Homo sapiens: one gene and its partners. The protein of the gene in region 3 interacts with the protein of the main gene of each other region in a pairwise test. Each region holds a gene or a part of one and is shown on either strand. Other genes may lie near its edges. The genes, in order: DDX17, TESC, WBP11 and UBASH3A.

What was found.
Region 1: the proteins of WBP11 (region 3) and DDX17 interact in a two-hybrid assay, tested with the Homo sapiens proteins (3 studies listed by BioGRID and IntAct).
Region 2: the proteins of WBP11 (region 3) and TESC interact in binary tests that used the Homo sapiens proteins (3 or more experiments, as listed by UniProt).
Region 4: the proteins of WBP11 (region 3) and UBASH3A interact in binary tests that used the Homo sapiens proteins (3 or more experiments, as listed by UniProt).

What each region holds. Positions count from the first base shown.
Region 1 is NC_000022.11:38,489,125-38,497,039, forward strand, and holds part of DDX17 (probable ATP-dependent RNA helicase DDX17 isoform 1 precursor), read right to left. Parts: intron 6,814-7,915; coding exon 6,672-6,813; intron 5,923-6,671; coding exon 5,762-5,922; intron 5,679-5,761; coding exon 5,506-5,678; intron 5,008-5,505; coding exon 4,897-5,007; intron 4,648-4,896; coding exon 4,586-4,647; intron 2,992-4,585; coding exon 2,932-2,991; intron 1-2,931. UniProt on the Homo sapiens protein: As an RNA helicase, unwinds RNA and alters RNA structures through ATP binding and hydrolysis.
Region 2 is NC_000012.12:117,096,201-117,104,426, reverse strand, and holds the start of TESC (calcineurin B homologous protein 3), read left to right. Parts: upstream 1-5,010; 5' UTR 5,011-5,144; coding exon 5,145-5,202; intron 5,203-8,226. UniProt on the Homo sapiens protein: Functions as an integral cofactor in cell pH regulation by controlling plasma membrane-type Na(+)/H(+) exchange activity. Promotes the maturation, transport, cell surface stability and exchange activity of SLC9A1/NHE1 at the plasma membrane.
Region 3 is NC_000012.12:14,793,017-14,800,931, reverse strand, and holds part of WBP11 (WW domain-binding protein 11), read left to right. Parts: intron 1-148; coding exon 149-180; intron 181-1,203; coding exon 1,204-1,297; intron 1,298-3,928; coding exon 3,929-4,125; intron 4,126-5,827; coding exon 5,828-5,961; intron 5,962-6,195; coding exon 6,196-6,395; intron 6,396-7,009; coding exon 7,010-7,201; intron 7,202-7,915. UniProt on the Homo sapiens protein: Activates pre-mRNA splicing. May inhibit PP1 phosphatase activity.
Region 4 is NC_000021.9:42,406,902-42,414,816, reverse strand, and holds part of UBASH3A (ubiquitin-associated and SH3 domain-containing protein A), read right to left. Parts: intron 5,396-7,915; coding exon 5,209-5,395; intron 1,794-5,208; coding exon 1,595-1,793; intron 1,408-1,594; coding exon 1,294-1,407; intron 1,259-1,293; exon of another isoform or gene 1-1,258. UniProt on the Homo sapiens protein: Interferes with CBL-mediated down-regulation and degradation of receptor-type tyrosine kinases. Promotes accumulation of activated target receptors, such as T-cell receptors, EGFR and PDGFRB, on the cell surface.

The DNA of each region.
Region 1 (7,915 bases), on a different chromosome or scaffold from region 3:
AAAAAATCTGCATTTTACAAAGAATATTCAGAAAATATCCTAGATAAAACACAGATTTTTGTGATATAAATAATTAAAAAACATTCTCTGTTTGTTACCAGACCGATGCACACTCCCTCCTCCTTTGGGAAACCGCTGCAGCCGATCCCGTCTCTTTGCCTTTTATTTTTGGCGGCCTCCTTTCGAAAACTCCGCCTTCTGACACGGGACCACTGGAGCGCGGGGAGCATGCATCAAGGGTCCGTGGCAGTGAGAAGTCCCCACACACGCTCGCTCTGTGAACTGGCTTAGATGCTTCTCTGTAGCCCCATTTGGTTGCCAAGCGCCGGAGAACCTGGGTTCGGGTAAAAATTTCAGGTCCTCCAACGCCTCCCCCAAGGATAATTGGGGTGATTGTAGAAAAAAATAATTAATAAAAAAAAATGTAAGTTACATCCAAAGGGTCAGACTGCATCTATTGCCCAGACTGGATTAATTTCAAGGGAGAAAGGGGAGATTAAAAAAAAAAAATTAGCTGTTGTTACAGGGCTTGTGAAGAAGGGGCATTATGTCTGTTTCTTATTACAATAAAGGCTCCTCGGTCTTTACTGACCCCTAAAGTCCTGAATCACACCAGAAAGACGAGAAGGCACTTATCACAGGGGGCAGCTTGAGTCTCCGGCTAGGGTCGTTGACGCAACAAAGGAAAAAAGAATTTACAGGGCCAGGGTGGATGTAAGACAGGGGGTGGGGAATTCTACTCCATGGTATCTTCAGAGCTAGGATAATGCTCCTTATGCAATCCCACTGCATATGACCATGGCAGTAGAACAAGTTCAATTACTACACTGGATGCGTTAAGTGTGCTTTCCTAGCAGAAAGCACCAGGGTGGAGTCAACAGTTCACATGCTAATACTTGGAAGTATTTCTAGAAGGGGGTGCTCAATAGAGGGCAGACATGATGCAAGTTCTTCATACTAGAAAGGTGTCCTGTGTGTGCATGCACAGCTGGATGGGGGCACACAGGAGCAAGCGCAGAATTTGGTTTTCTCCAGTCAAGTCTACCCTGATGTTATCTGTGCACTGCCACAATATTATCTTGCTGCCTTTCTAGAAGATGCTGTAGCAGGGTAAGAAATCCAAAGTTAATGTTTTGGCCAGCTGACTGGGATAAGAACCTTTTGTCTGAAAGGCCCTATGACATGGCCTGAATCGCCAATCACTAATAAGGAGGGACTAAGTCTAGCCAAGAGGCTCATCTAGAGCTGCTTCCGGCCAATGTAGATTTGTCTCGGCCATGTATTGAGTGATCTGCAGCTGATATCAAAGCTTCTGTTAAAAAACAAAACAAAATAAATTCAATACTTTTAGTTTAACAGTGTGTAGTTCAAACAAAAAAAAGGAAAAATAAAAAATATCCCAGTGGAAAGGGAAGTGGTAGCCTAAGGATGACTATTATAAAATTATGGGAATCAAAGAACTTACCTGAAGGGAACATTTAAGAGACCATCGCTTGACAGGAAGTGAAAAAAGGCCCTGGTGACTCAGCTGAAAATTGCACCCCTGTCTATGAGGTAGAAGCCTTCACTTTCCAGGATCTTGTAGGACATTGGTCAGAATTCTGCCATTTTGGTGGGTTTTCTCCCTCTTTTGATTTTTTACAAGGCAGCAAACAAAGGGGCCCAAAACAAGCACTGATGTTGAGTAACAAGAAACAGACTCGGGTACCTTCCCTCTCCCCTCACTTGGATGAGTGGGGGTGGGATGAAGAGTCTAAGTTATTCTAATGGTAGCCAATTAATTTGGTTTAGAAATGCAAGGGGACATGGAGCAAATATTTTTAATTGTCTAGGCAAGATGCACAAAGAAGCTACCAGCACATAGCAAGCCTGTTTAAAAACCAACCATTACTGAAAGCTTTATGTAAACTGCTTTCAGGCCTCCGCCTCCTCTCCCAACAGGCCCAAGTTCTAATGGCACAGATCCAGACATGACCTCAGAGGGCAGAGGGGCAGAGAGAACTTTCCATCATGGCTGCAGGTCACCACCTCTGAAGGAGGGAATGATGAGTGCAATGCATAAAAAGGCTTCATTACTTTTGTATTCCAGTTTGAATACCTGTTCTCTTTATATTATATAGTATAAGGGAATAATATGGTACTTCTCACCTTACTGGGCAAATTAAATACCTGTCAATAATTTAAGGATTTCCTTGTAATACAAATAATCTTTTTTTTTAAAATATAGAAGTTCTGAGTTAGACCTGTTTAGCTCAGAATAGTGGGCTAAACTACCATAAAATTCTCTGTATATCTTAAATGGTAATGGGTCAAAAACTCCAGAAAATCATCAGTTGATAACACACCTACAGATAAGTGCATGGGTAGGAGGGGATAGCCAAGTGCCCATGATAATTTGACCTCAGTAAATTAAACTGGGCAATACACATATTTGCTATTCTGATACTGCATTAGACTTATAAAATTCCATCTAATAAGCATTCATAAAACTGGACCTCTCTGTATATATCTAGCTTAGACAGGGATAGGGAAAAGAATAACTGAAGAAACTAGCTTACAATAGCTAGGTTTCGTCAGGCTTATTCTATCCAGCCAGAAACCACCACCAGAGAGAAGCTGAGCCATTCAGCTGTCTGTCTCCTCTCCCTCTGTTTGAATAGTCATGCCTAGGCCTTGCTGCAGACCAAAGCCTGTTTGTTAGGAGCAGGAAGAGACTTTGAAAATAAAAGGGGGGTGGGGGAAACCAAAGTTAAAAAAAATTGTGGGGGGGGCAGGGAATGGGGAGAATCACGCTTTGTATTTTTTTCTTTCAAATATTTATCTAACCACATGTATATACAACTTTCTAAACTTGAAGTCTGAATTTGAAATGACGAATCTTTAAACCAAAAGATACATATACCATTGACAGAGACACCTATCTATACAAACCTAGCCCACGGGAGGCTACATCTGTAGCAATAAGGATGGGTGCCTTTCCAGAACGGAACTCTGTAAAAACAAACAATAATCATCATCAAATAAGCATTCCTTGCTATCTGATCTGTTTACATAACCATGTTAAAATTTCAAATAATGGTGCCAGAAAATCCCAAGCTCTTGTAATGACTGACAGTGATTCTTTTGAAAATCTTTATTACACTCATATTCAGCAGCACAATAGTTACCTCTACTAATAATGAAATACCGTTAAGAGAGTGTGGCAATTTGTTACATAATTAATATGAGCTAGATTTTTTTCCCCTTAAAGTTATTTCCCAAATGAGACACAACCAAAAGTTGGGGGTCAGTAGGAAACAAGTTCAAAAGATGTAGAATGAAAAGAACTGAATTTCCCCCCAAAAGGTATGCATATTATTTATTTTTCTTTCTTTTTTTTGAGATGGAGTTTCGCTCTTATTGCCGAGGCTGGAGTGCAGTGGCGCAATCTCAGCTCACCGCAACCTCCACCTCCCGGGTTCAAGCGATTCTCCTGCCTCAGTCTCCCAAATAGCTGGGATTACAGGCATATGCCACCATGCCCGGCTAATTTTGTATTTTTAGTAGAGACGGGGTTTCTCCATGTTGGTCAGGCTGGTCTCGAACTCCCAACCTCAGGTGATCCGCCCACCTCAGCCTCCCAAAGTGCTGGGATTACAGGCGTGAGCCACTGTGTCCGGCCACATTTTATTTCTTAAACAAAATATGGCCTCTTCCATTTCTCAATGGCTTCCCTTAAGAGTAGTCCTGAAAAAAAGGACTGAAAGGAAATATGCTAAAATATGACTCATTAAGAAACATTTTTCTTTAAATATTTCAGTAACAGTTTAATTCTCCCCAAACGGTAGTTATATTTTTATAATCAGAAGGAAAAAATTGAAGACTTTATTAATAAAGGGAGGGTGGTGAAAGTTGTGAAAAAGTTTAAAGAGCCAGCATCGTGGCCCTTAAAGAACCATGAGCACACGCTAAAAGTACCCTCAGTAATTCAATCAACTATACAACAGGGGTAAGACAAACTGGCCTTTGGGCCAAATCTGGCACAACGCCTATTTTTGCAAATAAATATTGTCTGAACATAGCCACGTTTATCTCTTTGAGACAGGGTCCCACCCTGTCACCCAGGCTGGAGTGGCACGATCTTGGCTCACTCCAACCTGTCTCCTAGACTCAAGCAATCCTCCCACCTCAATCTCCGGAGTCGCTGGGGTTACAGGCGTGCACCACCAAGCTTGGCTAAGTTTTGTTTTGTTTTGTTTTTCTTTTAGAGACAGGATTTCACTATGTTGCCCAGACCGGTCTTGAACTCCTGGGCCTAGGTGATCCACGCGCCTCAGCCTCCCAAAGTGTTAGGATTATAGGCATGAGCCACCAACGGTGCCCAGTCCAGGCCACTTCTTTACATATTATCTACAGCCTACAGCTTTTGTCCTAAAACAGCAGTGCTGAGTGGCTATAACAGAGACCACCATTTGGTTTACAAAGCCAAGCATACTTACTATGTGGCCCTTTACAGAAAGTTTGCCTATCCCTGAAATAGAGCATGAACATTCACTTATGGGCAGGGGGTGGGGAATCAACAGAAAATGCTTAGTTTTAAACTTACCATTAAGTACCCAATCTCTTTCTGGTTGACTCTTGTCTCCATGGATACACATAGCTGGCCAACTATCAGAAGAAAAGTGACCAATATTTTAAAAATCTTTTAAAGTGGAGAAAATCGAACTTTAAAGCCAAATGCTATCATGCAATTTTTGTAAGGTTTGTCAGGCTTCATGAATAGATGACTGTGCTCATTAAAAGAGCAAACTGCATGGATAGGCATTATTGAAATATTACACAACATTTGGAATACCAATTTAGAAATTTCCAGTTAACTATAAAACCAGAGGTTAATTGCCTTGGTGCTATACTCACCCATCTCTGCGCATCCTTCGAGTCAGATCATCACAGCGTCTCTTTGTCTCCACAAATATTATTGTTTTGTTTTCCTTTTCAGCCATTATTTCTTCCATTAGTTGGATCAACCTGAAAACATGACCAACAATGCAGTCATCACACAGAAAGTTATTATGTGGACGATTATGTCTGCAATATCAACTCCCAAGGCTACAGTACTTTCTTTGCACATTACGCTTTTAAAATTTTTAATAACTATTAGAGTACTGAGTCAGGTTCTGCTATGTGCTCAAGAAATACTAACTCATACCATCCTCACAGCAAGTCTCATGTAAGTGGTATTACTCCCATTTCACAGATGAAGAAACTGCAGCACCAAGACACAAAATTGTGCAAAATTATACAGCTTGTAATCAGCAGAGCTAAATTTCAAACTCAAGAATTCAGAATCCTTGCATTTAACCATAATGCTCTGACAAATGATATGATGATGGATTATCAGAAACCTAGCAATGCTTTTAATGTTCTCAGGCCTCAAAATATACTGGTTTCTACAGTACTAATTTTGGAGGGTTATTAGAAAAGGTTTATCAGCATTATCAAATCAGAGTAAAATATCTTTCATACTTGTGGTCTTTTTCACTTTCCATGCAGACATCCACTATCTGGAGGATGTTGTGGTTGGCACTCAACTCCAGATTGCCTACGTTGATCTGGGTGTAATCACGAAGGAAATCCTCTGCAAGCTGTCTTACTTCTTTTGGCCAGGTTGCACTCCACATCAGTGTCTGCCTATCAGGCTATCAAAAAAGGAAAGGCTTTCTTTCAGGCTAAGGAACTTGGACAAATGGCATAAAGACTGCTTATTATTAGCTTTACACACCCTGATTTGGTCAACAATTTTACGGATCTGGGGTTCAAACCCCATATCAAGCATTCTGTCAGCTTCGTCCAATACAAGGTAAGTACATCGGCGAAGATTTGTCTTTCCTGACTCCAGGAAATCTATCAGACGTCCAGGAGTGGCTATGCAGATCTCAACACCTGTAAAACAAAACCAATGATCGAGCCAATCGACTAGGTGCAGTGGCTCACAGCTGTGTTCTAGCACTTTGGGAAGAGGAGGCGGGAAGATCGCTTGAGGCCAGTTCACAACCAGCCTGGTCAACATAGCAAGACCCCGACTCTACAAAAATGCAGCAGCAGCAGCCCTGGTGGCTGTACTCAATGCTGCAGAGAAGCTATTTTTTTTTTTTTTTTTGAGATGGAGTCTTGCTCTGTCACCCAGACTGGAATGCAGTGGCACGATCTCGGCTCACTGCAAGCTCCGACTCCCAGGTTCACGCCATTCTCCTGCCTCAGCCTCCCCAGTAGCTGGGACTGCAGGCACCTGCCACCACGCCTGGCTAATTTTTCGTATTTTTAGTAGAGACGGGGTTTCACCATGTTAGCCAGGATGGTCCCAATCTCTGGACCTCGTGATCCGCCCACCTCGGCCTCCCAAAGTGCTGGGATTACAGGCATGAGCCACCGCACTGGCCCAGAGAAGCTAAATTTTAACAAAGTAACCGCAAAACCATGTCAGGACTTATGTACAATCACCAAATCCTCACAAAGTTTCCAGCCATGCTGAACCTTCTCTCTCAAAATAGCTGTTTTAGTCACATCTGAGAATTTCTAAGCTGCTGAAATTCTGAGTTTATCACAAGAACCCACTTTTTTTCTCCAATTTCCTCCACAGGAATTGGTAAAGTAAGATAAACTAACAATTCTTTTACACTATATATTATTACCTCTTTCCAAGTCTCGAATCTGGGGACCTTTAGGAGCACCTCCATAAATACAAGTACTCTTCAATCTAGAACATTTGCCATAGTCATCGGCCACCTGCTGTACTTGCTGGGCAAGCTCTCTGGTAGGAGCCAGAACTAGACACTGAAACCAACAAAAAGACACTTGAGACCTCATCCAAGGTTTAAAAAAAAAAAAAAAAAAAAGAAGAAACAAAATACAAAAAGCTAATTTAATTCTTTGCTGTCTAATCTAGCACATTAAAAGTGATGGGGTGAAGATCAGAAGTGGGGAATATTAGCACAATGGAATATAGAAAAAAATTATTAGAACTTCATGTTTAGCATTTGGAATGATACTGGTATCCTCGTCACTTTTACTATGACACATTATCAATCATTATAGTTTATATATACTGTTTAAGTGGAGATATAGATTGTATTACCTGGTTTTAAGTATACAACTCTCATTTACAGGTTGAGCATCCTAAACCCCCAAAACCAAAATGCTCCAGCAAGCATTTACTTTGAGGATCATATTGGTCCTCAAAATTTGGATTTGTTTTGTTTTCTGAGACAAAGTCTCACTCTATCGCCCAGGCTGGAGTGCAGTGGTGCAATGAAGGCTCACTGTAACCTCTGCTTCCTGGGTTCAAATGATTCTCCTGCGCCTCAGCCTCCTGAGTAGCTGGGACTAGAGGCAGGCACCACCATGCCCAGCTAATTATTGTATTTTTGTAGAGATGGGGGTTTCCCCATGTTGGCCAGGCTAGTCTCGAACTCCTGACTTCATGTGATCTGCCCACTTTGGCCTCCCAAAGTGCTGGGATTACAGGTGTGAGCCACCATGCCTGGCCTAAAATTTGGAATTTTGGATGGTCATCCTGACTTAAACTGGCAGAATGACACATTCCTGACCTCTAATTTAAGCACATCACCAGGTAGATAAGGCAAAAACAATGAAAATTTACATGTAATCTGACAAGACTGTGTACAATCTGGCCAAATAATACAAAAATCAAGGTATCATATACCATTCAAATTAAATTATGAAACTTGCTTTATATACTGATCCATTAGATATCAACTAATAATAATGCTGTCAGACATATACTATGTATTATAAGTACTGCATTATTTCTTTTTGTGAATATCTTGAGACATATTGTACATGTTCATAAATATATAGGACAAATGCAAGCTTATTTCTTAAAAAAGTTAAGTAGGCCGGGCGTGGTGGCTCACAC
Region 2 (8,226 bases), about 100 Mb from region 3:
TCTGAGCCCAGGAGTTCGACGCTAGCCTGAGCAACATAGTGAGACCCCATATCTAAAAAAACAAAATTCAGGGATTTTGCAAGCCTATTGTTAAATTATCAGTAACTTGAAATTGACTATGGCACGAGTATTTACACACAGAAATTGGCAACTGCTACAGATTAGGACTTCTGCCCCTCCTGCCCTTTTCAGAGAACTTGTTTACCAGCTCACCACTGGCTAGCACTTACGGTGTCAGGCAGTTTTAAGCACCTTCTCTATATGAATCTGCATTTAACCCTTACAATGTTACATATATGAATCTGCATTTAACCCTCACAATCACCTTACATGTATGAATCACCTTACATATATGAATCTGCATTTAACCCTCACAATGTTACATATATGAATCTGCATTTAACCTTCACAGTCACCTTACATGTATGATCACCTTACATATATGAATCTGCATTTAACCTTCACAATCACCTTACATGTATGAATCACCTTACATATATGAATCTGCATTTAACCCTCACAATCACCTTACATGTATGAATCACCTGACATATATGAATCTGCATTTAACCTTCACAATCACCTTACATGTATGAATCACCTTACATATATGAATCTGCATTTAACCCTCACAATCACCTTACATGTATGAATCACCTTACATATATGAATCTGCATTTAACCCTCACAATCACCTTACATGTATGAATCACCTTACATATATGAATCTGTATTTAACCGTCACAATCACCTTACATGTATGAATCACCTTACATATATGAATCTGCATTTAACCCTCACAATCACCTTACATGTATGAATCACCTGACATATATGAATCTGCATTTAACCCTCACAATGTTACATATATGAATCTGCATTTAACCTTCACAGTCACCTTACATGTATGATCACCTTACATATATGAATCTGCATTTAACCTTCACAATCACCTTACATGTGTGAATCACCTTACATATATGAATCTGCATTTAACCCTCACAATCACCTTACATGTATGAATCACCTGACATATATGAATCTGCATTTAACCTTCACAATCACCTTACATGTATGAATCACCTTACATATATGAATCTGCATTTAACCCTCACAATCACCTTACATGTATGAATCACCTTACATATATGAATCTGCATTTAACCCTCACAATCACCTTACATGTATGAATCACCTTACATATATGAATCTGTATTTAACCTTCACAATCACCTTACATGTATGAATCACCTTACATATATGAATCTGCATTTAACCCTCACAATCACCTTACATGTATGAATCACCTTACATATATGAATCTGCATTTAACCTTCACAATCACCTCACATGTATGAATCACCTTACATATATGAATCTGCATTTAACCCTCACAATGTAATTGCCACTTTGCAGATGGGGAAACTGAGGATGAGAGAGGTTAACTTGCCCAAGTATGGTTTCATAGCCCTCCATGACAGGAAGGTGGGAGAGCCAAATGAAGACCATCCTGGCCATCTCTGGGCTCAGCTGCTCTTTGCGGCTTGACAGGGACCAGCTATATGAATTGCGGTCACCACTTTTAATCAGCTCCTCCAGGAGGAGGTCCTCTGGGAGAAAAGACGCAGTTGCCTGGTGACTAAAGTGTTTCCCAGTCCTCCAAAAGTCATGCTGTGTTATTGGGGGGGATAAAGCTTGCCCCCCAGCAGGGTGCCCCTCTTCCAGGGCTCTAGACAAAAAATCCAATGAGCCCTGGCCAGACCCCATGCAAAGCTGCAGACCTCATTCTTGCTTCTTGCTTTGTTGACGCCTGCAGAGCCATTGGTAGGTTTGAATGAAAGCCATGACGTCCCGGAACAGGCAGCAGCTGGCTTTGCGTGGAGGGCGCCTTGCGGTGTGCACATCATTGCCAGAGGAGGGCAGAGCCCGGGCAGATGGTGGGTGCCACTGCAGGGGCCCCCACAGAGACATCTGTCCACCAAGAATTTGGCTTTGCTGTATCCCTTCGGGACCACAGTTGGGGACAGTCCTGGACTTCCTGAAGCTCAGCTTTAGGGATGACAGAGTCTCTCCAGGGGCCCATTCTGGTTTGAACATTCCATCTCTCTGTGGGCTCCATCACGTCAGCCCTTGTTTACCCATCTGCTTTGTCACTGCCCGTGTGTCTGTCTCCTCACCCCACCAGGAGTTCTTCAGGAGCGAAGGTGGCATCTTATTCCTGGCTGTGGCTCCAGGACCTAGCAAGAGCCCTGAACATAGTAGGTGCTCAATAAATGTGCAATGAATAAATGATTGAACGAATGCATAAATTGTGCCTTGGTTTTTTCTGCCTTCGTGCTGCTCCAAGGATCTCCTGATTACTTCTCCAAGCCCTGCTATTAGGAATAAATCCTCCTCTGTCATCCTCAGCAAGACTTCCCGCCTCCCAGCTCCCTGCTGACTGGTGGTGGTGGCTTGTTTGGCTGTGGACCCAGGAGAGGGGATGAGGACTCTGAGAAGGCCTCCCTGAGGATGTGAGTTTCCACTGAGGTCTGAAGAGGAAGCGGGAGTGCAAGAGAGTTTCAGGCAAAAGGAACAAGTACAAGTGCTTGTCTAGTAGCTAACAGCGGTCAGTGGGTCAGGGTAGACAGGTGATCGGGTAGGACAGACTCCCTTCATACTAGATACCAGGGGCTTCCTTGAGATCACCAAGGGACAATGTGAAGCCATGTGCCCTTCTCCTTGTCCCAGGGCTTTTGTCCCCACCAGAGCAACTGTGCCAAGCAGGAGGGGCTGATGTCCAGAGAATGCCACTTCCTATCCCCCACATCAGACAGTTCCATCATTTAATCCTTGACTAGTTTAATATAATAAAATTCCAGGAACTGACATTTTAAGTTGGAATAAAATTGCTCCCAGCAGCTGTACGTAATGGGCTGGCTCAGCGGCTCAGAACTCCCAGGGGTATTGGGGATCCTTTCCTGATCCCAGAGGCCTGCCTGTTTCCAGAATCCTTTAAACCAAAATGCAGTCCCTAGGTCAGCTGTCCTGCCGGCTCAGATCAGCTGATGACCCACAGCCAACATCTTTCCACCTTGATCAGGTCTTGCACTGCCCTCTGGAGAGTGCTTTAAAATGCAGATTGCAGGTGCTGCCTTAGCTCTACGAGTGCAGACAGGCAGTGGAAGAGGAAGCTGGATTTTCCATTTTAGAGACAGGGTCTCGTTCTGTTGCCTGGGCTGGAGTGCAGTGGTGCAATCAGAGCTCACTGCAGCCTCTAACTCCTGAGCTCAAGCGATCCTTCTGCCTCATCCTCCCAAGTAGCTGGGACTTCAGACGCACACCATTGTGCCCAGCTCATTTTTAAAAAGTTTTAATTGCTGGTAGAGCTGGGGTCTTGCTATGTTGCCCAGGCTGGTCTCAAACTCCTGGGCTCAATCCTCCTGTCTCAGCCTCCCAAAGTGGTGAGATTACAGACATGAGCCACTGCACCTGGCCAAAAGCTGGATTTGCAACCAGGAAGGGGCTGATTCTGATGCTCTAGGAGGTTTTAGGACCAACTCCCACCCTCTACCTCGGGCTCTGAAAGTCACCTCCTGCCCCTGGAAAGGGCTGTGACCCTTGGCTTGAGCCTGTAGTCTGCAGGAATGAACAGCAGTTCTCAGCAGCCCCCTTCCCAGCAGCCTGTGAAACTGATGGAGGTAGGTCCACCCGAGTCCCCTCTGTGGGCACCGAAAAACTCCTGCCCCCTACCCTGTCCCCCTTCCTCCCCAACATTTATCATCGAGACTAACGTTCAGAACAGACCTGATACCTGACGGTCATTGATGGTGGTGTCACTAAGCACTGCAGAGCCTTCAGGAGAGCCTTGACCTTGATGTTCTGCCCTGGCTGTGTGCCTCTCCAGGGGACAAGATTCCATAGCGCCCACCAGCCTCTGTGGCCATGTGCTGTGTCCACGCCAGGCCCTCTGGTGGACATCTCATTAACTTATCCTTATTTTAAGGAGGAGGAATCACATTACACAGGCAACAGCATCGGCCCCAGTCACCCCAACTGGATGGAGAGCCAACCCCTCAAGCCATCTTAACCCAGAACTTCCCTAATGGGCATGGGGACCACCGGCATTGCCTTCTCTCCAGCAGTTTGTCCCAAATGCAGCCTCCTGGGCCCACTTCTGCAGTTGTTTTTTTGTTTGTTTGTTTTTTGAGACAGAGTCTTGCTCTGTCGCCCAGGCTGGAGTGCAGTGGCAAGATCTCAGCTCACTGCAACCTCTGCCTCCCAGGTGCAAGTGATTCTCCTGCCTCAGCCTCCGGAGTAGCTGGGATTACAGGCATGTGCCACCGCGCCTGGCTAATTTTTGTGTTTTTAGTAGAGACGGGGTTTCACCATGTTGGCCAGGCTGGTCTCGAACTCATGAGCTCAAGTGATCCGCCCGCCTTGGCCTCCCAAAGTGCTGGGATTACAGGCGTGAGCCATGCGCCCAGCCCGCTCCTGCAGTTTGAGGTGCCTCTCAGCCACCGGGCTGTGCAGGGCCCACACGGGCCGCCACGTGGGTGTGTTCACCTCAGAAGGTGCTGGGGCTTTCCTGGAAAAAACCAAAGCGCATGGTGCATTTTCAAATAGGATTATTATTACTGTTGTTCTCCATAGAGCTATTTCATGCTCGCTGACTTCCTTGACTATCTCAGTGGAGTTTCCCTCCTAAGATCTGGAGGATGTAAGGTGGGATGGGTTGGGAGTGGGCATAGCACCTCCCAGGGGTCCCACCCCTCCTACCCACGCCCCCAAATTTGCTCACACCTGCTTCCTTCCAGATCCAGCAGGTGTGCGGAAGGGACGAGGTACGTGAGCACTGCTGCACGAACGGGGACTCCAGAGCGGTGGGCTCCGGGGTCCCCTTCCCGGCGGTTTCCGGGCCGGGGCGGGGCGGGGCGCTCCCCTAGCCGCGCAGTGCGCGAAACCGGCGTGCGCTAGGACCGCGGCGCGCCGCCCTCCGCCGTTATATGAGGCCCCGCTCCGGCCCCACGCGGAACCCGCGGCTCCGAGCCTTCGCCGGCGTCCCGACCCGAGGCCGGACCCGAGGCCAGTCCCGCCGCTGCGCAGCCGAAGCCAGTGCGGGGCCTGAGAGGGACGCGCGCCCCGGGGCCCCCGCCGCGGGCACCATGGGCGCTGCCCACTCCGCGTCTGAGGAGGTGCGGGAGCTCGAGGGCAAGACCGGCTGTGAGTACCCGCGGGGGGCGGCGCGGGGACCGGGGCGGGACCTCCGAACGGCCACTGTTGGGGACCCCGGCCCGCCGCCGCGCTGTGTGACCTTGGGCCAGTGGCGGGCCCTCTCTGCGCCTCAGTCTCCTCCTCTTTCAAATGGGTCCCCGCTGGCCACCTCGCGGGCTGCGGCGAGGAGCTCCGCGGCGATGCTCAGTGCCGCAGCCGCTCAGCTTCGGACTGGCCCGGGAACTCCCTGGCCGGGGGACTGCGGACCGGGGAGGGAGCGGGGCCCAGGCTTCCCAAGCGCAGGGCAGGTGCCTCAGGCCGGGCGGGCAAGTCCCTCAGGCACCCCCGCTGGCGCGCGCGCCCCACACCTGAGAGTCGTTTGCATTCGTGAGCGCGAGAGCGGAAAGTTTTGAAGTCGGCGGACCTGGGTGGGAACAGGTCTCCGACGCTCCCCGGCCGGGTGACCTTAGTCGGGAGAGCCGGCGCCCGGCGCCTGCTTTCGTCCTCGCATCTGTAAAATGGGTTCAGGCAGCCTCATCCCCGCGGGTGGCTGGGAGACTTAGCGAGGCAGCGGCCGCAGAGCACTTTGCCCGGAGCCCAGCGTCCTCCCCTGAGTTCGCTGAGTCTCCCGGGACCAGCAAAGGCTGCGCGCCCCGCATCGGCCCGGAGGCGGGGAGCCCTGGGAGGCCTGGCCGAGCTGCCCGCAGGGAAATGGCGGAGAAAGCGCTTCTCTGCCCGAGTTCAGCCGGGCTGGGGACTTGGCCCTGGGTCCTGAACTCGGCATGGCCAGTTCTGCCTCTGGCTGTGGACCAGGGTGTGGACTGGAGACCGCGGGGGCCAGGTGTGTGGGCAAACCGGCTTTGGCGAGCGACAGACCGGCTGTGAACCCTGCCAGCTGCACTTCCTGGCTGTGTGACCTTGGGCTAGTCACTTTACCTCTCTGATTCTCAGCTTTCCTTCTCTGTTGTAAGAGTTCTCCTAGTACCTGGTAGACGCTCAGGAAATGGGAGCTGCAGATATTTTGGGAAAGAGCTAGCTCCTGGCACCTGCTTCAAGTGCAGAGAACCAGCGTCCAGTATTGATCACCAAGAGAGGGTGGCCCAGCTGTTTGTGTGTCAGCTGAAAAGCAACCCCTCTTGACCCCCAATCTAAATACCCCTTTCCAGGAGAACTGGATGAAAATTGCAGAAAACCATTAATAACTGGTGTGTGTATGCACGCACTTATACGTCTATATCTGTATCTCTGTGTGTGTAGAGATATAGAAATATCCAACTAAAGAAGTAAAAGGTGTGGCTCAGCATATATAATATGGTACCCTTTTTTCTGTTTTTTAAAAAAGGATCCTTTGAGCTGGAGCCGCAAAGTAAAAAGAAATAGAAAATGTAAAAAGAGGGGAAAATAAGAGTATACATTTGTAATTGCTATATTTGCAGACTGGAAGAATCCACCAGAAAGTACGAATGGATGCTTGGTGGGGGTTGCGGGGGGAGTGGAAGGGATGAAGGGAGAGTGAGCTTTTTCTCCGTAAACGTTTTTATATGTTCATTTTGAACTATGTTGGATATTTTACTTACTCAAAAAGTTTTATGCACTTCAATCCGAAGACTAATATGAGAGAGAAAGGAGGGATTCCTCTAGCTCTTACTTGCTTGGGTCTCCTCTGCTTTTATTATTTCTCATGTGCCCTCTCCTCGCCTCCCACTGCTTTGAATCTGGATGGGTGTCGATGGGCATTCTCTGTGGCTGGGATCCCCGTTGGAAGGGTGGGCTCTCCGGCAGCCCACGGGGCACTCGGGAATTCCACCTGGTTGTGGGTTTGACAGGGAGGAGGGGCTGCAGAGCATGCTGGGAGTCTTGTCAGTTTCCTGGGTCCAGCCTCCCACTGGGATGACAGATGCTGTGTTCCTGCTCTGTAACCTTCCTAGATGTAGCTGCAGCGGCTTCCCTTCTTGCTGCCCAGAGCTCAGACTTCATAACCCAAGGGAGATGGAGAGGGTCGGAGAGGAGGTTCTGAGGTTAGACTAGAGTAGGCAGGTGGAACTTTAGGTAGGTGGAAAGTTGCCCCCAGTCCTCCGAAAGGGACTGCGTAATTCGGTCACTTTTGCCCACTTAGCAAATATTTATAGACCAGGGGCTGGGGATTTAGAGATGACTCGGAGAGGCTGCTGTTCCTGGAGGGGGACACACAGTAAACAAAACGCCCGACAGGTGTTAAACTGTGAACGAGGCATAGCAGGGTGGCATGAGAATGGAGCTTTAGGGTGGATCCGGAGGTCCTCCCTGAGGAGGTGATAATGGAACAGAAATCCAAGTAAGAATGAGCCAGGGGTGTGCAAATCAGTGGAAAGGGCATCTCGGGCCGAGGGGACGTCGAATGCAGAGGCCCTGTGGCAGGGACAAGCCAGCAACAGTAAATAAGAATGCATGAGATGAGGACACAGCTGTCGTCAGGGCTCAGGCTGTGGCAGGAGCCTGGCTTCAGGGGCCTTGCCAGGTACCTTGGGCAAGTCACTTATGCTCTCTGAGCCTCAGTTTTATCTACTATAAAATGGGCATAGTCATAGTACCTCCCTTGAAGTTGTTGGGAAGGATTGAGTTAATATACATGAAGTAGTTAGACCAAACACATGTACATGGTTTGTTATTGACCATGCTTTAAACACTCTTGTATGTCCTGGTCGCTCCGAGCCATAGCTGAGAGTTGAGTCTTGGTCCCACCTCTCTGAGCTACATGACCTTGGGCAAGTCATCTTACTTCTCTGAGCCTCAGTACCCCCACCTGGATCCTGAAGTCATTGTGTGGATTTGATAAGGTTACGTGCGAGACGATCGGCTTGGCATGGGAACGTCAGCTCCCAGAGACCCAGTGGGTCAGGCAGGGCCCTTCCTCCAAGGCCATTCCCTTGGGAATCTTCCCTGAGAAAAAGGGAGAAAAGCCTCAGGGTAAGGTGGCCAGAGGACAGACTGAGCCCACAGGGCTGCTGACTCCCCCGCCTCCCTGAGGACCAAGATGACCCCTGACTTTCTGGG
Region 3 (7,915 bases):
GCATGTAGTGGAGAGAATCCAAAGATGCTGCTCTTTTACAGTGCATACTGTAACTTTCCACAATAAAGAATTACCTGTATTAAATTGGAGGAAATGCTAATGTTCAAGATTCAAAGATTTTATTATATCTCCCTCTCTCCTTTTAAAGGAAAGGAAGCCCGGAAGAGAGAATTAAAGAAGGTATGATTTTAGAGGCATCTTATAAAACTTTAAGTATTGTTTGGTACATCTTGTGATTTGGGATTAGTGGGTTTCAGAATAACATTTCTAATATTTTCTAGAAAAGGTACTTTATGCTTTTTATAAAAACTGTAAGATATACTAAGCCAAACTTTATTTAGGAACTGAAGTAACTTTGCAGAGAAGCTCACTACAGGTTATAATGCCATTGTTTGATTACTTTTCCCAGTGAGTTAAAAAATACTTTTGAAAATAATTCTTTTTTTTACTCATTAAAACATAACTGTTTTAAAGTCTACTGATGAGGATGGAAATAAACATGATGCTAGATAGCTTTATCCATTTTCCTGATTAGCTGTCTATTACATATATTACATTAGCTTAAATATATATATGTAGGTTTATAATATTTATAGATATATTAGATTTATATATCCATTTTCCCAATTAGCATTCTCCTCTTAGCTGTTGAATTTGTGGCAAAGTACTTCAAAAGAATTAGAAAGGATTTGCCTTATAGTATTGTGCTTTATAGTATTATAGTATAATACATTGAAGCAACACAGATTTTAAATAATGTTCGATTGTGTTTTCATGTTTAGCATTAACTCCTGCAAAATTTTTAAATATTCTTTATATAATTTTAGAATTTAGCTTCAACCTTTGCTTTGGACTTCAACTAGCAGAGGTTTTACAACAGGGGGCAGGAACAATCACCCAAGGTCTTCAAGAACATAAGGGGTTAAAAAAAAGAAATTTAAAGTGTATGTGTGTTTAAGTAACTGCTAAAGATCTCAGAGTTCAAAGAAATACTTTACTAAGAAAGCACATCTTAAAAATAGCATTTCTTTATCTTTTTGACAAGTGTAAACATTTTTAAGGCAAAAAATTACATAGCTGTTTCTGGTGGTTGAAACAAGTGATCAGAAGCCAAGGAGTTATTCTGTTTAGATTCTTAAAGCAAGTTGAAGTAAAACTCCTGAGTGCCTGACTTCTTGACATCTGCCCTTTTATTTTTCTAAGAACAAAAAACAGCGCATGATGGTTCGAGCTGCAGTTTTAAAGATGAAGGATCCAAAACAGATAATCCGAGACATGGAGAAATTGGATGAAATGGGTAAGAATTTACAAACAGGCAGCTATAACAGTCTGACACGTACAGAGGCAGGCAGGTAACGAGTGAAGCAGCATAGGCGTAAGTAAAACAGAACAGCATGATGGCATTTGATGCTTGGATTTAATGTTAGTTTCAGGGAGACAAAATGGAGTGCTAGAGGGCTGTTGCAAACTGGAGACCCCAGATACCAGAATAAGAGGGAAGCGATTATTTGGCTTTCAGTTAATTGTTATTGTGAGATAACAGAAGCACAGTTTGGCCAGCTTGCTTTTTGGGAGAAGACTTAATCTGATTTATGAAATAACCTTGGGTTTTTTGTTTGTCGTCTTTTATTTAATGTTGGCAACTACCATGTAAATCTAAGTATTAGGCCCCTGTGAATATAAGGCAATTTCCAATTTTTCCAATCAGAAGATCCAAAAAGATACTTATCCATTTAGTAAGGATATAGAAAAAAATCATCAAATACCTAAAAACCAAATAATAAAATACTATACCAGGATTCTCTGCCTTTTTCACATTTTATAGAATAGTTTTATTCACTCTTCATATGCATTTTAAGTATCGCTGCTTTGTTATAACTGGAATCACATGAAATAGCTGCATGTTATCTTTTTTTGCATCTAAGTTTGAAAATCATTGATGTTGCCACTGGAAATTTTATCCTAACCCACAAATATCCATTCTGTTTAATATTAGAACATGTAGAATATTTTGTTTTTTTAATAGAAATTTTCAAACATGCAAGAAAATAAAATAGTCTAGTTAACTTCCATGTGCTTTTCACCTGTCAAGTTTCTGCCACTTTGTCTTCTACCCTTTGCCACTTTTGTAAAATAGCATTTTAAAGTGATCGTTACAAGTTCCATGTTTTGCCCAAAAACAGAGTAGTAAGTAAAAGAGATGGAATGAAACTCCTCAATGATACATTAAATGGGGTACAAAAAAAAAATTCAGTCATGGCATTAGGCTATTACAAGGTTTCTGAAATAATGTGGGAGAATCTGTGCAGCTAGCCTGGCTAAGAGTTCTGGGTCAGGCTTCAGGATCCCAGATATTTCCCAGTTCAGTTGTAACTGATTCCACTTCCTGCCTCTGGTCTAAATATCAGCAGGGATAATTACTTTCCTTGGGGAATCAGGGAATCCTTCTTTAAATGACCCCAAATGTTATGTGTTGTTTTAAAAGGAGATAATAGGAATAACTGAGGTTTCTTGAGTAGTTGTCTTGCTATACACCTACGCACCAGTTTTTTTCCACCAGTTTTCTAATCGTCACAATTTTTTAGGGTAGGTGCACTGTCCCTATTATACAGGTAAGAAAACTCAGGCATGGAGAGATTACATAGCTTTCCTCAAGGTCACACTGCTATGTAGTGGCAAAGCTGAGATTAAAACTCAGGCATTCAGCGCTTTTACTAATCACACTAGGATTAGTATGGTGTAAGAATACGCCCTCTGGATTTGAATAAATTGCCAAGATTAATAATAGTTAATAGGATTTAAGGAAGAAGATAAATTTGTTATTCTTTTAAGAAAAAGGAAAGGGGTGAAGAGAATACTATTCATCAGGGGTCTAGTTACAATTTATAAAACTCAATACAGACTAGTTAAGGCAGAAAAAAGCATGCATTGGCTGTCTTAATTAAGAAGTCTTAACATAAAAAAAAGATGAGAAATCCCTGAGAGAAACTAGCCTCAAAATCCAGTCTCATCATCAGTACTGTCCATCTGTCTAGTCTGATGTCTGTTAGCCTCATTCAGCTTACTACTAATGAACTCCTTGGGATAGAAGGTGGAATATATGTGTGTAATTAGTGATGATTGAGAGACAAGGCCACAGGCAGCTCTAGGTTTGTTTTCTCTCTACATAACACATTCAGAAAGAAAATCTGAGAGCTTATCTCTCTCACATCTACATTTAAAATCTCAGGGAATGTTCTGGTCCCAGTTTGGATCATGTGCTAATTGATCTCTGAGTCATTCACTGAAAAGGAAGATGGGGGGATATGATTGACCAGGCAGGCCTGGAGGTCTTATTCTTGGGATAGAGGACCTGCAGTTAAGCCCCATATTGACACATGATTAGTTAGGGAGAGAAAGGATTGTATAGTAGCTAGGCCAGGAATACGGATCTGTTATAAAGATTATAGTTAAGTGGTGAGTCAAACACCACTGGATATTTTATTTGTAATCCCATTGTATCATCATAGCTTTATTACAAAGTGATTAACGTCTCCATTTTTTAGATGAGGAAGCAAAAAATCAGAGAATTCAAGTAAAATGCTTAAGATCTCAAAATTTGACAGGACTAACGTAGTAGGTAAACACAAATCTGACAGAATCTTCACGAGGTTTTCAGCACAGAGCAGTGAAAATTGATTTTTATTACAATGAAGATGAAAGTCAATTAGGTGGCATTTCTGAGAAAGGTAAAATTAGTGGCCATCTAAAAAGGGTGGGGATTTTAATAAATATTGTAGTTCTTCGAATAAAATTGAAAAGAGTATGTCTGGTGTCTAGATCTCTTAAAAATTTTTTAGCATATATGGAGGTTTTTATCATGTAACCTATTGATACCTAATTGAAGTGGCCTCTTATATTTAATTCCATAATCTACTTTTTCTCTTAGAGTTTAACCCAGTGCAACAGCCACAATTAAATGAGAAAGTACTGAAAGACAAGCGTAAAAAGCTGCGTGAAACCTTTGAACGTATTCTACGACTCTATGAAAAAGAGAATCCAGATATTTACAAAGAATTGAGAAAGCTAGAAGTAGAATATGAACAGAAGAGGGCTCAACTTAGCCAATATTTTGATGCTGTCAAGGTAATCAAGGTTTTTTTTTTGAGAGATAAACTAAAATATTATACAGATTGAGTATCCCTTATGCAAAGTGCTTGGGACCAGAAGTGTTTTGGATTTAGGGTTGTTGGGTTTTTTTTATATTTTGTTTTGTTTTTGTGTATATTTGCATATATTTTGGGGATGGAACCCTAGTCTAAGCATGAAATTTATGTTTCATATACACATAGCCTGAAGATAATTTTATAAATTTTGTGCATGAAACAAAACTACGACCCATCACATTAGGTCAGGTGTGGATTTTTCCACCATGGCATCATATGGGAGTCAAAAAGTTTAGGATTTTGGAGCATTTTAGATATTCAGATTAGGGATGCTCAGCCTATACTTAGATTTAAAAAGTTAATGGGAGAATGTCATGTTGAACCTCTTCCTTATAGCAGTTTCTTCTAAAACTAAACATATACCTACTGTGTGAACCTGCAAATCTAATCCTCTTTATTTAAACAGAAGAAATTAATTCAAAAACTTGGATCAGCCTAAGTGTTCACTAATAGGATAATGGATAATTAAACTGTAGCATATTTATACAATAGAATACTATTCAGCAATAAAAGGAATAATCTAATACTCAAAACAGCATGGAATAAAAAAAGAAAAATTGTGAGTAAATCTCAAAAACATGCTAAGTTTATCTCATTGTTATGATTTCATTTTTATGAAATTCTAGAATAGTCACAGATAATCTGTGCAGGAAAAAAAAATGTAGCCGTGGTTGCCTTGGGGGATGATATTAGAGATGGATTGGGAAGGAGTATGAGGTATATGCATTTGTCAAAACTTACTGAATTTGTAAATTTCGTAAATTTTACCTCAAAATAAAGATGGGAAAAAATCAAATGCTATAATTTCTGTAAAGGAGGTAATATGTCTCCCATTTTACAGATGAAGGCACAGGTTACCTTGCTTAGTCAAACTAAGCTAATACACAACAGAAATTCAACATAGGCAAGCTAATGAGCCCAACCTCCACCACTGGATATATACTATTTGTTAGTTGACATATATTATTTTTCTTTTTTTTGTTTATTTTTTGTTTTTGAGACCGAGTCTCACTCTGTTGCCCAAGCTGGAGTGCAGTGGCACCATCTTGGCTCACTGCAACCTCTGCCTCCCAGGTTCAAGCAATTCTCCTCCCTCAGCCTCCTGAGTAGCTGGGACTACAGGCACACGCCACCACAACTGGCTAATTTTTGTAGTTTTATTAGAGATGGAGTTTCACCATATTGGCCAGGCTGGTCTCAAACTCCTGAGCTTGTGATCGACCTGCGTCAGCCTCCCAAAATGCTCGGATTACAGGTGTGAGCTACCACGCCCAGCCTGACATGTATTTTTCTATCACATGTTAAATAGGGTAGTTCTGGTGCTAGATACTTGTAACAGTTGGCTTTCTCTAGACAACAGCTGTTTCGAATCATCCAAAAAGAATTACCTGATAAGAGGAGAAAAAAAACAGCTGGGTTCTGACGTTTTTAGAAGTAAAGATTTCTTTCAGTTCTTTGACAATGTGGAAGTATTGACGTAAGGTTATTTTTCTGGGGGTTTTTGGTGATATTTATGTTAGTTGGAAAGCATGTCCAAGTTACGAAACAGCTGACTTGTCATTTTTAGTGTTTAGTTAGTAGATGACTTTTTTATCATACTACTGAATGGTTCTCTGTTTCAGAATGCTCAGCATGTGGAAGTGGAGAGTATTCCTTTGCCAGATATGCCACATGCTCCTTCCAACATTTTGATCCAGGACATTCCACTTCCTGGTGCCCAGCCACCCTCTATCCTAAAGAAAACCTCAGCCTATGGGTAAGGAAGCAGTGTCACAATCAGAGAGCATTTAGTAAAGGCACAAGTTGACTGTCCAGTGCCAAAATTAATGCAGAGGGAAATAAAAGACAATATGGATGTAAACAGTGTGACATTTGATTAAATGTAAAATAAGAAATCCCTTGAAAATTGTTTAGAAGAGAAAATAAATATCTCATTACTGTTAAGTGATTACTGTGGGGGTTTTTTTGTTTTTGTTTTTTTTTTTAACAGACCTCCAACTCGGGCAGTTTCTATCCTTCCTCTTCTTGGACATGGTGTTCCACGTTTGCCCCCTGGCAGAAAACCTCCTGGCCCTCCCCCTGGTCCACCTCCTCCTCAAGTCGTGCAGATGTATGGCCGTAAAGTGGGTTTTGCCCTAGATCTTCCCCCTCGTAGGCGAGATGAAGACATGTTATATAGTCCTGAACTTGGTGAGAAGTGACTGTTCTTTTGCTTTTATAACTATCATTTTTTATGTTGGCCCTGTTTAACATATTGTTCACCACCCTCAGAACTTAGAAAGTAAATGAGAGGGTATCATGTACATAACTAATATACATACAGTTGGATAAATCATAGGATCTTCTCAAGTAAAAGCATCATACATAAGTATAGAAATGTTTATCGTGTTTTAAATTAGGCTTTTCCTGGAGATGTCACTCTTGCTGCTAATCCTTTAAGACTTGTATATCTGGTTCCCTTTTAGCTTTATTGTCATCAGACTAGAGCGTCATTGTATACATTCACTGACTGTGTATGTGTATACAAACATGATTGTTGCTAAAGGAGGAAATGGGTTTTCAAATTAGAACTCTTTTTAAAAAAATCTTAAATTACCAAAAAGAAGTGTTTAAAATTATTGGCAGAGGAAAATTTTGTTAGACTGTATGAGTAGCTATATATACAAGAATTTTTTTTTTTTTTTTTTGGTAAGAATTAAGTTGTTACAGTCTGAGTTGAATAGCATAATTTTCTGTATTTCTGGGTACCATGTAGTGGAGGGTCCAATCATACTACTTCTCCATGTTCCCTTCCCACTTTTCAGCCCAGCGAGGTCATGATGATGATGTTTCTAGCACCAGTGAAGATGATGGCTATCCTGAGGACATGGATCAAGATAAGCATGATGACAGTACTGATGACAGTGACACCGACAAATCAGATGGAGAAAGTGACGGGGATGAATTTGTGCACCGTGATAATGGTGAGAGAGACAACAATGAAGAAAAGAAGTCAGGTATGTGCAGATGAAGGATTCATGGTATTGATCAATAAAGAGAAAACAAGCTGAAGGTCCTAATTTATTAATGAATCTGTGAGAGTACTCTGAAATCTTTGGAAGTCGGGATCATAGCTGTGTTCATCTTATATATTAAAATTTTGAAAGTTTTTGACACAGTAAGTACTCAGTGGATGTTTATGAGGAAAAGCATTAAACTGTATGTAATAAAAATGTCTATGTAATAAAGTTCACTTTGGGGTAAAAGGTATAACTATTCAACAGCATAAACGTATTATGGGTATGTTACAGGAAAGAAAGGAGAGTAGCCATATTAAGAAAAACATTGATGTTGTATTTTATAAATCTGTTTAAATATCTACCTTTGAAGCCCTTTTATGGTATCTTACATGAACCAGGATCATAATTATAACCCAGGTACACTCATGAGTGGAATCATGAAACATATTATATCTATAATGTGTGTGTTTGATTATTAAAAAATTCAAATAGGACATTTGTCAAGAAAATTTTAAGCATCATAATGGGTACTGACAGTGGAAAATGCACACCAATTCTGTCAAACCTCAGCAATTTTGGAGCTTCTTTTGGGATTGTTTATGTGGCCTACAACAGAATATATAATACTATGTAATATTAATATTGATAATGACAAATTTTTCTCCTGCTGTGTCTTAAGAATCATGGTTGCAAGAACAAAAAAGCTGGTTA
Region 4 (7,915 bases), on a different chromosome or scaffold from region 3:
GCCTCCCATTTCTGGAGACTAGAGGTTCAAAATCAAGGTGTTGGCAGGGCTGTGCTCTCCCCGAAAGCTCCTGGGAAGGGTCCTTCCTGGCTTCTTCCAGTTTCCGGTGGCCCCAGGCGTCCCTTGGCTTGTGGCTACATCACTCCAGTCTCTGCCTCAGTCGGCACATGGCTTCTCTGTGTCTCTGTGCGGCCTCTACCCTTACGGGAACCCACCCTAATGCAGTGTGACCTCCTCCCAACCAATCGCATCTGCACAGGCCCTATTCCCAAGTGAGGTCACATTCCCAAGTTCCTGGTGGACAAACATTTTTAGGGGACACCGCTCTACACACCACAGGACCTTGGGCAGGCCCTTCACCCTTTGCAGCCTCAGTCTTCCTGTTTTTAAGATGCTGCCAATGAGGTTCACTGGGGGAGGGCCTGGGTGTGAAAGAGCCATCATTTGATAAAGGATACTAATCCACAAAGACCGGGGGCGACTTTCTAATTATTCAGCAGATTCGATCTCCAGACTCACAAGCTGCCATCCAAGTGGAAGCCCAGGATTCAGGGATGGATTTACAGGCCAGGATCTGTGCTTCATACATGTCTGAGCACAGACAGACACGCTCCCAGAGAGAGAAAGTGGGGAGCCCTCCCACCAAGGCACTGCGGCCTCGTCAGATTTTAGAGTCGGCAAATCTCAGCAATACTGAGTGCCTTCTGTGTCCCGGGAACTATGGCAGGATGGGCCACAGACTCAGGCAACATTGTTCTTGAAGAGTGAGAGCCCTCATTGTTTTGTAGAGAAAGAAAAAGAGACAGAGAGAGTGGACATGACTTGATTAAGGTCATGCCACTCATCAGGGACACAGAAAAAAATCACATCTTCTGACGTCAAGTCCACAATCCTTTCCACTAAACCCCAATGGTAGCCTTGGTCTCCAGGCCAGGGCTGGTGTTTGGAGAGAAGGGAATTTTGATGATTCTGAATATGAGTCTAAATAATCTTTCCCTGGAGAGGCCAAGGAGAGAGCACTAAGCTCATACTGAAAATACAGAAATAAGTCACGTAGGACTTGTGTGTCTCCCACTCAAGGCTGGGGTGGGGAGGCCCTGACTCCCTGTGTGCACCAGCCTCCAACCCCGTCACAGTCACCCACTCAGGCTTGATGCTTGGCACACCCTTCTGGGGCACTTTCCCAGGCTGTTGGCATATAGCTAAGCATTTTAAAAACCACATAATGAGAACAAGGCTATTCCCGCCTAAAGAGAAGACCAAAGCTGGTCCGGAAGCTTTCTAATGGCTTACATTTTTGAAGGATGTAGTGGCTCACGAAGGAGGCTCTAGTTAAATTGCTCAGCCTCAGGTTAGGGCCATGTCCAGGCACCTGGCTGAAAATCCAGAAGCGGGAAACGGAAGTGCCTGGGTGAGGACAGGTGCAGCCACTGAGCCCGGAAGAAAGCCCACCCAGCCATCCCACCATTGCTGCTGGGCTCTGCTCCCCTGGAACCCACCCACTGCATCCATGTGCCGGGGGCTAGTCCCTGCCACAGAGGGCTCACTCACTGTGAATCCAGCCCTGTGTTTGCAACTGGCCAGGGCTGCCCACCTGCTAAGAGAGATGCTTCCGTGGCGAAGGTCATGGCGAATTCCCGGATGACGTCTGCGGGGCTGCCACTGACGAAGAAGCCGAGGTAGCTGATGGAGGAGTGGAGAGCCAGAGGCACGGCCGTGGGGAAGGAGCCCAGGAGCCTGTCTCCAGCTCTCTTCAGCGCCTCGTACAGGCATTCCACCTTCTGGTCTTCACACTAAGGGGACAGAGACAGAGCCTGTGTTTCCACACCTCTCATCAGAAGTCATCTATTAATTTAATTAATAACAATCAGGCAGCAATTAAAGTGAGATTCTTTTCTGTTCAAAGCGCTGTAACATAATTTATTGCGTCCCTTTGTGTCTGGGGTTATGGATTTGTTCTATACCTGGACCTCGGTTTTTTCAAATATTTCAGGTAAGTTTCTTTGCAGGTTGGAGTCTCCTTTAGGTGCCCAGGTTGGAAATCCCCTGGTCGTTGAACTGCATCCCCTCCCTCCATGGCACGTGCTCATCACCTGCCAGGCCCTTTCCTCAGTCCCATGGCACACTGCTTTGCTCAGGTTTGCATGATTTGGCTTCTGGAGGTTTCTAGCAGACTCCAAGGCTGCCCAGGCACTGCTCAGAGCCTGTAGTGAGCGGGACTCAGCTGCACTTCCAGCTGCGGGGCCACCCTCTCTTCCACGGCTGAGCACTGAGTCGGGTTCCACAGGGACTCCTCTAAGGCACTGAGGCTCTGCCTGCCTCCAACCCTCTCCTCCTCTTTTGCCTTCACCAGCAGTCTCTCCCCTGTGCGTCTCCTGCACTGGGAATTCTGCCTTGGGGTCTGCTCCCTGGAGGACCTGAGCCTGCACAGCCCCTGGCCCGGCCTCCCTGATGCCCCCTGAGTGGCTGCAGGACCCTCTTTCTGATGCAGCTCCCACCCCTGAGGCCGCAGGCTCTCTGTCACCTGGAGAATCCCTCAGGCCCACGGAGCCCGACAGGTGCTGGCCCGACAGCCTTGCCCACGGGGCTCCCACCCCCATCCTCCAGCCAGACGCAGCCTCTCCTGACATCTGGGCTCGGTGTTGCCTACCGCCCTGGGGAGGCTGCTTCCTGGGCTTGAAAACCTTCCCAGTGCCATTGGCCACATCGGACCACAGGGGAAACCCAGACACCACACCCTCCTGGCGGGAGTTGGCCTGATCCCTTCTCTTCCCAGCACCGGGCTGCCCTCGGAATTTCCCACAGTGCTTCTTACAAGCCCAAGTATGAGGCCAGATCACAGTGTTTAATGCAGCTTCCGTCTCCCCATGGACAGGCCGGCCTGACATTCCTCCCTGTCTGTTTTCTCTGCAACCCTCAACGGCACTCAACACAAAACCACCCAGTGAACACATGTCCATTCCTGAATCCGTCTCACATTGTGTTTCTTGGCCTCAGATATGTAATTTTCAAGAATAGTCATGTTATAAGTGTAGCTGTGATCAATATCACACTTCGGAAGATTAGTGTTTTCATTTTACAGCATCAAGGTACACAGTGAGTCTCCGTTACACTCTTCTGCCTGTGAGGGGAGCTCCACTAACCACGGCCAGGCCAGAACTGGGGTGGGGGACTGGGAGGAGCTAACGACAGAGGGAGGTGTGTGAGTGTGTTTGTGTCTGCATATGTCTATATGTGTGTGTGTCTGTGTGTGTGTCTGCATATGCGTATGTCTATGTGTGTCTGTGTGTCTGCGTATGTCTATATGTGTGTCTGTGTGTATGCATGTGTGTATCTGTGTGCATATGTGTGCATGTGGTGCTTATGTGTGTGTCTGTATGTGTGCATTTGTCTATGTATGTGCATGTATGTGCATGTCTGTGTTTGTGCATGTGTGTCTATCTAATGTGTGTCTCTGTGTGTGTCTGTGTGTGTCTATGTGCATGTATCTGTGTATTCCTGTGTGTGTATATCTGTGTGTATCTGTTTGCATGTGTACCTATGTACATGTAGTGTGTATGTGTGTCTATCTGTGTGTGTCTGTGTATGTCTGTATCCATGTATGCATGTATATATGTGTGTGTCTGTGTGTCTATATCTATGTATGTCTGTATGCAGGTATGTGTGTGTATCTGTGTGTGCTGTGTACGTCTCTGTGTCTATCTGTGTGTGTCTGTGTGTATCTGTGTCTCTGTGTGTGTCTGTATGCATGTATGTGTGTGTATCTGTGTGTGCCGTGTGTACGTCTCCATGTCTGTGTGTGTCTGTGTGTCTATATCTATGTATGTCTGTATGCATGTATGTGTGTGTATCTGTGTGTGCCGTGTGTACGTCTCTGTGTCTATCTGTGTGTGTCTGTGTGTCTATATCTATGTATGTCTGTATGCATGTATGTGTGTGTATCTGTGTGCATGTGTAAGTCTCTGTGTCAATCTGTGTGTGTCTATGTGTGTGAGCTATGTGTGTGTCTCTGTGTCTATCTGTGTGTGTGTGTGTGTGCTTGCACCTCAGTGGGCTGGGGAAGGAGTGGGGGGCCAAGGCCTGCTCTGATTTCTGAGCTGTGTCACATGGCTTGGGCTGCCTTGCCTTTCCCCGTTGGCTCCAGAGGGTGAACCAGAAGGGAGTCAGCTTGTCACAAGTACCATTGATGTCGATGTAGGGGGAAAACTCTCTCGATTTTTCTGGGGCTTTTCCAGGTTTAGTCTTGTGCTCTGGGGATCCCTGCAAGTCTCGGGCAATCCGGGGTGGTGGTTGGAGGCTTTGGAAGGTACTGCTTCTCCTGGGACATCTTCCAGAAATCTTTTCCCTTCAGAGGTTTGCATTCCTCCTTTCCATCCAGCACCGAGGGGCCTGGTGTTGGAATGGAGGGTTCCTTGGGCCCTGATGGAATTCCTTGAAATGGGTGGAACAAATCAGTTTGCCAACAGCAGAGTTGGGGCCAGGCCGCGGTAGCAGAAGTGGGTGTGCCCTTCCTTAAGCCCCTCTGGCGGAGCTGAGTAGAGCAGTGGCTGTCTGTCTCTCCCTTCTCCTTCTTTTCTCCTGAGCAGCTCCCACATTCTTCTTGTCTTCCCGGTGCCCCTGTAGAGCTGCCTGCTGGGCCATTGTGTTTTGCTGTGGAGCTACCCACTGGGCCATTTTTTTTCTGAATCAGACGGCTGGTCCCTGAGACAGGGAAAAGTTCTGCATTTGTGGGTAGCCAACAATCACCCATCCTTGAGTTGACTTACCACACATTTTGGAAGCACAAACTCTGTTTTAGGGGCTGTGCTAGTTTCTGGGGGTGCAAAGATGAGTGAGGTATCTGCCTTCCCTTGAGGGACTCGGTCTGGTGAGGGATGCGGTGCTGCACCAGACACATGGCCCGTATGATACAAAAGTGCCACTAGACACATGAACGAGAAAATGGGCAGCAACTCCTTTTGCCTGGGGAGCTGGAGAAGACTCAAAAAGGGGAGAGGATAAATGAGTTGGGTTCTGAAGGATTAATAGGAGTTGACCAGATGAAGGCAAAGAGGAAAATAAAGGACAGCTCATATGAAGGTGCCAGCTAATGATGCAGTTCTGGACTATCCCATTTAAATAAGTCAACTTTGTCCCATCATGGCCTAGTTAGCACAGAAAAATGCCTCCAGCTGCCGTGAGCATTGAAGGCACACTGGGTTGACTCACCGTGAAGAAGTCACAGAGTGTCACGTGTGGGAAGACCTCATGAGCTCTGTTCTTTGCACACTGGCGCTTGCTCTCTCTCCAGAACTCTTGAAGTTTTTCCAGCAGGGGCCCCGTTGGACAGAGGAAAAGGGCATACTCCTGGGGGATGGGGTCGTCTAGGGAAGGGTCATTGCAATGATCATGCAGCCTGCAACAGAGAGCAAGCCGGCATCACCCACTGTCACAACAAAAAGAGTTTTCCCCTTTGAGGATACACAACAGAATGACAATGACAGCAATGCAGAATTATAGGGCACACTGAAGACATCATATATGCTCATGACATAAATTAATCTCACAGCCATCCTACTGGTGGGAGGCACTGCGGCACAGCTGTGTGTGGCACAGACCTGGTCAGTGTAAGTCCTGCTCTCAGACCCACCTTAGTCTGATTCCAAAGTCAAAGGTAGAAAAAATGAAAGAAAGTTGACAGCAAGACCTAAAACCTGGTCTTCCAATGATCCGTGGGCCCAGCATCTCCTTGATGGTGTGGGAAAATTTTGTGGAAAAACCTCACATTTGTATTTTACCTCAAACTTCAAATTACATATAAAAACCAAAACCAAAAACCTAGACAAAATTTAGGTAGCTGCTGCGTTTCTTTAGATTCAGACAGTTTTTATTTTATTTTATTTTATTTTATTTTATTTTATTTTATTTTATTTTATTTTATTTTATTTTATTTTTGAGATGGAGTCTTTCTCTGTCACCCAGGCTGGAGTGCAGTGGCACAATCTCAGCTCACTGCAACCTCCACCTCTCCGGTTCAAGCAATTTTCCTGCCTCAGCCTCCTGACTGGCTGGGATTTCAGGCAGACAGTTATTTTAAATTAAAGGAAAAACGACGGATGACCCAACATAGGAGTTCATTGTCACTAACAATAAAAATGGAAATAAAATAGCTCCGAGACGGCATTTTTCTCATCTGTCAAGTTCACAAAGATTTTTTCAATAAAAAGGATAAAAGTTCTGCTCAATGTGTAAAAGATGCAGCAGGACTTAAGGACAGACCTTTCAACTTTTATGTGAAGCAATTTGCCAATAGGTATTGAGAGTCTTAAAATGCCCACACTCTTTGCATTAATAATTCTACTTCCAGAAATTTCTCCCGAGGAAAGAGCACAAAGTACTGTATAGGCAAAACTTTGCACATGAACCATCTATTTAGGGCTATTTAGAAGAAAGTTAGAAGGTTATTTAGGGTTATTTAGAAGAAAGAAGAAAAACTCCATAACTGATAGCAAATCTATTTACCGTGCATTCATTAGAAATCATGGTTTGGAAGAATTTCTAATTACTCAGCAAAGTGCCTGTGATATAATTTTCAATTTAGAAAGTAGTATTCAATCACTAGAGGAAACAGAACTTACGCAAGACCATATTCTCTTCAATAAAAATCACAGAAGAAGTTGCCACTCCTCTCCATCGTGGTTCCCACCCTCCCCCTTTCCAGGGTTCACCCAGAGGGTGAAGCTGCTTTGCCTTCTCCCAGAAATTTAAGTAACGGACTTATAGATAGCACTTGTTTTACATAAATCATAAGCTGTTATTCAAATTATTCTACAACTGGCATTTTTCCTCTACCATGTCTTTTCAATTAATCCCTGTTGATACACACGTGTCTAGTGAAGTTTGTCAGCGCGAATTTGTTAAAGGCTGTGTAATAGTTCATGTATACATATACAATGTTGCACTTGTTCATTCCCGCATTGATGAACATCTAAATTATTTTATTTTAAAACCATTTCATAACCCTGCAATCAAGATCTTTGTACATGTCTCTTTAGGCTCCTTGCATTTCTCCAGGGAATCTGCTTAGACGCACGACGGAGGCTGGTGGGCTGTGCATATTGCCAAGGTTGGCAGATACCCAGCACTGCCTTCCTCAGTGACACCAGTGACGTGTGAGGCCCTGCTTCCCTCACCCTCATCAACACTTGGAGTTACCTTGTTTGCTCTAATGATATCTTAATTTGCACCACCTCCCTGGTTACTAGTGAGAGGTTGGGGTGCTCTTGACAGTCTAGGGGACCCCATTGCCTCCCTATTTTTTGGTGGGGTTCCTAGTCTTATTGACTGGGTTGCAGTGGGCAGGTGCTGGCCATGCCCTTCACAGCAGTGGGCTTGTTTCTGATCCAAAATTGGCAACTGGCTTTAGTGGACTCTGTGAAGGGGTTGCCCATTTTGCCCGTGGCCTACACTTTCTGGAGGAGGAGGGGGCATCCCATTGGGAACACTGCACGTTCAGAGACCCAGGATCAGTATCTGCCCTCCTGCTTTGGAGAGGACACTCCAGCCTCCCAGGACCTGGTTTTTATTGTTTGATTTTCCCCGTGGCTATCTCAGGGCAGAGGATGAAGGACTCCCCACAGCACATCCGGGTAGGAGAGGGTTTTAGAGAAACGGTGGCCCTCCTCTCCATCCCCAGAGCAGAGAACAGGCCCATGGCAGTGGGTGGCTTGAAGAATCACTCACGCAGCTGGTACCTGGTGAGGTCACCTCAAATCAGAGCCCTCACCCGACCCACACACCTGGCACCCTTAGACCCACACACCTGGCTTCATGACCACCAGTAAACTCCCTTCCCCTCAGAGGCAGCCCGAGAGCATGGTGGCCGCTAGTCTCTATCAGCAAAGATGTCAATTATGTCTCAAATCTTTCCATCAAT